Regions from separate parts of the Homo sapiens genome. Here region 1 is linked to region 2. Evidence: fine-mapped expression QTL. Tissue or cell type: blood mononuclear cells. Region 2 holds a variant in brackets; the other region holds the start of a gene. All regions are shown on one strand. Distances are from middle to middle. Region 1 holds the start of XYLT1 (xylosyltransferase 1). Region 2 overlaps XYLT1 (xylosyltransferase 1).

The links.
Region 1: it holds the start of XYLT1, and the variant in region 2 is fine-mapped to the expression of XYLT1 in blood mononuclear cells (TOPMed, PIP above 0.99). The same link has a PIP of 0.9 or more in whole blood.

What each region holds. Positions count from the first base shown.
Region 1 is chr16:17,469,881-17,472,821 of GRCh38, forward strand. XYLT1 (xylosyltransferase 1) reads right to left here and starts at 1,080. Exons shown (of 12, transcript NM_022166.4): 1 at 554-1,080. The coding sequence starts at 916. It overlaps LOC107987234 (a long non-coding RNA gene), which reads right to left and starts at 547. Exons shown (of 2, transcript XR_001752091.2): 1 at 1-547. LOC105371106 (a long non-coding RNA gene) reads right to left here. Exons shown (of 3, transcript XR_933144.3): 3 at 1,127-2,224. RefSeq lists enhancers at 1-129, 250-299, 1,074-1,575.
Region 2 is chr16:17,377,006-17,379,505 of GRCh38, forward strand. The region is part of intron 1 of XYLT1 (xylosyltransferase 1); the gene reads right to left. Among named protein-coding and RNA genes, the nearest start is that of XYLT1, 93 kb to the right of the region's middle. The variant GAA/G (reference allele first, on the strand shown) is at 1,241.

The DNA.
Region 1 (2,941 bases), 93 kb after region 2:
GTAAGACCAGACACCCCGGACTGAGTATTGATTCAGGGGCATGGTCGGGGACTTGGGACGCCCAGCTCAGCCCTCATCGCAGGCCAGGACGAACAGAGGGCTCAACTGTCTGCACCCAGCTCGGCAAAAACCAGAGAGATGCTGCTGCGACAACCGCCCAGGAACAGCGGCTGAGGATCCGGGGAGATCCACTCACTCAGGCAGGGAGCGAGTCACCAAGACCTACACGCACGGAGCAAGTCACCTGGGGTCCCCAGCAAGAGTGATGGGGAACAGGAACCCAGCCAGGCTCCGGTAACCCCCAAAGCGCCCCCGCTGGAGAAAACTTCCCCCAGACCCCAAGGGGTCCGTGCTCAGACTCTGAAAGGGGCAGCCCACGACCCCTGAGCCTTGGCAGGGACCCCACCCGGCTTCCCGGGGCAAGAGGCGATGTGGAGTCGGTAGGCTTGCAGAGTCCCAGTCTGATGACCGAGTTCAAGGGCTAGGGGGGCGTGGGGTCGGGCTGCCTTCCTCCCTCCCTCGCCGCGGGGCGCGAGCCGAAAGGGCATCTTACCAGAGCCCGGGCGGGCAGTGCCCCCCGGCTGGCCGGCTGCTGTCCCCGCGGTTCTCCGGGGCCGCCTCCCCGCGCCCGCGCCTGGGGCCCCCGTCCTCCTCCTCCTCCGCCGCCGCCTCCTCCTCCTCCTCGGGCTGCAGCCGGCTCGGCGGGCAGGTCCCGGCGCTCCCGGCGCGGGGCCGGGGCCGGGGGCGGCTGCTCCCCGCCGCCGACCGCTGCGCCCCCGCGGCGCTCCCCGGCCCCGGAGTCGAGGCTGCTGAAATTCCACACGACCAGCGTCTGCAGCAGCAGCACCGTGAGCGCCGCGAGCAGCGCCGAGTGCGAGCGCCGGGCCAGCCTCCGGGCGCACGGCGCCGCCACCATCTTCGGAGCGCGGCCGGCGAGCGAGGCGCGGGGACCCCGGCACGCTCCGGGCCGCCCCCGCGCTCCCCGCAGCTCCCGCGGCCGCCGGCTGCCGCTCGGGCTCCCGCTCGGGCCGCCGCCGCCGCCCCCCTCCCCACACCCCTGTCCCCGCTGGAGGGGAGGGTGATGGGGAAGGCGCCGGGGGGACGCGGGCCGAGGCGGAGAGGGCGGGGCCTGGGGGAGGAGCCGAGGGAGGAAAAGGAGGAGGGAAAGGAAGGGGGTGGGGGCGATCAGAGAAGACAGACACCCCTCAGGACGTAGTGGGAGTAGGATGGGGGGCGAGGGGGACAATTCCCAAGGCGGAAAAAGAGAGGCAGGGGCCGCGAAACAGGGGACCTTTGGTTGAGGGTGGGCCCGCTCAGAATCCAGGGGAGGTCAGGAAGAGAGGGGGTCCCGAGGTCCTGTTTTCCCTGTGGGCCGCTGGAAGGAGGCAGTGCGTGGAGGAAGCTCCTAGCCCCGGAGTTCGCGGTCCAGGGATCTTCTGTCGGTACCAGACCGGTTGGCAGGTGGACACGTGAGAAACATTTCAGGAGTGTCAGAGCCACAGTCTGATCCCTTCATCCTGGGCTTGAAGGGGTGGGGAGGAGGCTTTGGGTGAGTTTCTGGAGTTAATCAGCACAAGCTCTGTGAGTGACTCCTGAATCACACACAATCCCCGGTGCCAACGATGTACTAAGTGTTCACTGAGTCACTTCTCTGGTCCCTGAGGACTCACAAGCCAAGAGACTCCAAACCCAGTTGGCAAGTGGTATAGCGGCAAAAGGGAGACCCGTGGAGTTACTCAACCTTCGCAGGATGCAAGCCCCAAAGGCTGGCCCCGCAGCCTCCCAGCGTGTCCTTTTCCCCATCCATCCTGAAGTCCCCCTTCCTGTCTGCACAGGGCCCAGGTCCTGGGGAAACAGGTCTTGCTCTTGAAAGTGGAGTTCTTTCCCATCCTGACTGGTCTGTCCCGGTGACCTTGAGCCAGGAGGAGGAGGACTCCTCCCTGAGCCCAAGCTTTCTCCTCTGTCGTTTAGGCAGAATGATCCCAATGGACTCAAATTTCATCCCGAGCCTTCTCTGACTCAGTCTTTCTGGTTTTTCCCTCCCTTGTCCTCTTGCCCAGGGCTTTATACACAGCAGCGCAGAACAGTGAGCATATGGGATGGCGTTGGTGTCCCATACGGGACCTAGCACTCTGGGAATACAACAGCAGATCAAATCAGTTTGTGAATTGAGGACTTGGCGTGAATGCTTCGCATCTTGTCTGCTGTGCTTTTTCACCTCATCCTAATTTACAAAGAGAAGAAAGTGGAGTGTAATGAAGGCTCATCAGACAATGAGGCAGGGAGTGGGAAGAGATTGTTTCATCCACTCCACAAGCATCCGTGAATACAAAGCTTGTGTCAGACACTGGGCCAGGTGCACGCATCCAAAGGTGAATGAGGTTTAATCTCATCTTCAGCAAGCCTGAGGTCTAGAGAAGCCTGATGTGGATGTTAATCATTAAAATATAGTGAGATAGGCCTGGGCGCGGTGGCTCATGCCTGTAATCGCAGCACTTTGGGAGGCCAAGACAGGAGGATCACCTGAGGTCAGAAGTTCGAGATCAGCCTTGCCAACATGGTGAAACCCCGTCTCTACTAAAAATACAAAAATTAGCCGGGCATGGTGGCACACACCCCTGATCCCAGCTACTCAGGAGGCTGAGGCAGGAGAATCTCTTGAACCCAGGAGGCAGAGGCTGCAGTGAGCCGAGATCACACCACTGCACTCCAGCCTGGGTTACAGAGCAAGACTCCATCTAAAAAACGTATATATAAATATATATATATTGTATATATATATATTATATATAATGTATATAATAAATATATTATATATAATATATTTATATATATGTACATATAATATATATAATATATAATATATAACATATATATAATATATATATTTATATGTAAATATATATAATATTATATATATATATATGGTGAGATAAGCATT
Region 2 (2,500 bases):
ATTTCTTCTAAAAATACAAAAATTAGCCGGGCATGGTGGCACATGCCTGTAATCTCAGCTCCTCAGGAGGCTGAGGCAGGAGAATTGCTTGAACCCGGAAGGTGGAGGGTGCAGTGAGCCAAGATCGCACCACTGCACTCCAGCCTAGGTGACAGAGTGAGACTCTGCCTCACACACACACACAAAATTAGGTACTATTCTGGGTCTTGTTTTTATAGATGGAATAGTCAAGGCTCAGATTAACTAATAACTCACCCAAGATCCCCCAGCCAGGAAGAAGGACCTGGTTCTAGTGCCTATGTTGTTAACCTGCCCATCAAACAGACCTGTTGGGACCTCATGAGGCCAGACACTAACCCCCTGTCCTCAGCTAGACATGGCGATAGAGTTCCCATTGTCTGGATGGCAGAATCTTCCCATCACTGCAGTGGTTCAAGACATCCAGGCTCTTTGTTTGGCGGGACAGCCAGCCTGCTCTATTCTCAGGGGAAGGGCTTTGAGAATGGCTTATTTAGCTCACTCCCCAAGAAGCTTATCACCCCAACCCCACCCCTGCCCAACAAACACATTCCCATCAGGAAAGCTGGACGACCCTGCCTTCCATGGAATGGAAGCTATGATCCCATCCATTCAGTTCAGCCTCTCATAAACGCTCTGTTCCAAACATAACCAGAATAGTCAGGGAGTCCTCGAAACCCAGACATGACTTATTTTCTATTTCTAGCTTAACCACGTGATGCCTGTGAGTTTCAAGCACTGGAGCATCCCCATTCACGCTGGAACCATCTCATCTAGAAAGGGGAGGGTGTACAAGCAGCTCTGGATCAGCCCACTGGGGTTCAGAACAAGCAAAAGAATTTCTTTACCTCCCCTGAGTTTCAGCCTCAAAGAGCAGCAAAGAACCTGGAGCCCATTAAATCCAGCTGTGCTCATTGTACAAAGGGAAGAACTGAGGCTTTGGAGGACAAAGAAGATACCCAGATGATCTGCATTGCTCTTTTTCTCCCTTGCTTCTTTCTCTCTTGTTGAATTGGAATAGGTCAAACCTGTCTACAGTACTCAAATGTCACGGGGGTTTCCTCCACTAGGCATGGGGCAGAGCTTATTCTCAATAAATGTTCGAGAATGAAACGTCAGCAATTAACTAGCAGGCAACTTTGGAGAGGATTTCACTTCCCCTATAATTAAACACAACAAATGGCACGAATGTTGAAGGGACAATATGCATGGGTGTGTGTGA[GAA/G]AGAGGAAGAGACTGCAGTTCCCATACCAAATAGGTATTTATTTGTTCCAAGACTTTTTTTTTTCACCAAAAAATGCTTTAATATAATCACCTTTTAAATAATATACACTGTCATCTTGATTATGTCTATTGGGCTTACTCAAAGAGGCCAGGACCTTGCAGAGAAATGAGCCTGAGGTTTCCTTCTGCCAGGTCACCAGTCAATGGATATTTCCCAAAAGGTGGATCTTTTAATATATGACTGCATAATTTAACCTAAAATCCTAGTTAGTATTCTAGCAAGATGTCTCCTTCTAATTGAGGTAATTTCTAGGAATATGTTGCTAAAAGTTTCCTTTTCTTCAAATAAAGCAATAACTGCCATTTATGAAGCACGTATTAGGTGCCAGGTACTTCACTGGCCTTAACTCTTTGTAACTCATGTTTTCACCGTCACGACAACACTGTAAGGCAAATTACGACCAGTTCACAGCCAGGAAAACTGAGACTGAGGCAGAAAAGTAACTGGCCCAGTGCTGCAGAACCAGTAAGAGGCTGAGCTGGGGTTAGAACCTAGGAATGACTCTCAAGTCCAAGCTCTTTATACTGTATTCTCCTAAGCTCAGATTAAAACCCACTCCATCCCCTACTTTCTTAGTATTTCTTCATAGACAGAATATTTCAAGGAATTTAACTTTTACCACAAGGGATACAAAACAAGGAATGAGAGGACCTGTCTTACCTCCGCTTTATCACAACCACTTTGCAAAGTTACTGAGATTCAACAGCTTTGTCTGCTAAATGGGCACATAGCCCTTCAACCACTCCTTTGCTTTGCTGCCAGAAACAAAGGAAAAGGCAGGAAAAAAGTGCATATTTCTTCCAGAATTGTCAGAGGCCAGCAGATCTTCCTGCAGGATGTCAGCCTAAGCAATCTTTCAAATGCTCCCCGGGCAGGCAGCCCAACCCACCACACTCCGCTCCAAGGAGACACCTCCTAAAATAAACCCTGCTAACTTCAGTTAGCTCACCCTAAAGACTATATATAGAAGAAAAGACTCAGGAGTTCCCATTTGGCAGCAGCTTCTCCAAAACTCAGCGCAAATGGCTGATTTCTAACTTAATCTCCAACATCTGACAGGCGGCTTTAAATCAGGGAGGCCGACTAAGAGATGGAAAACCTCTGTGAGGCCAGCCCAGCCTGCCTGGGGGCAGAGACACCCCAGGGCTTTTCAGCAAACTGGAATGGCATGAAAATGGGAACCTGGCCCCCGGAGGA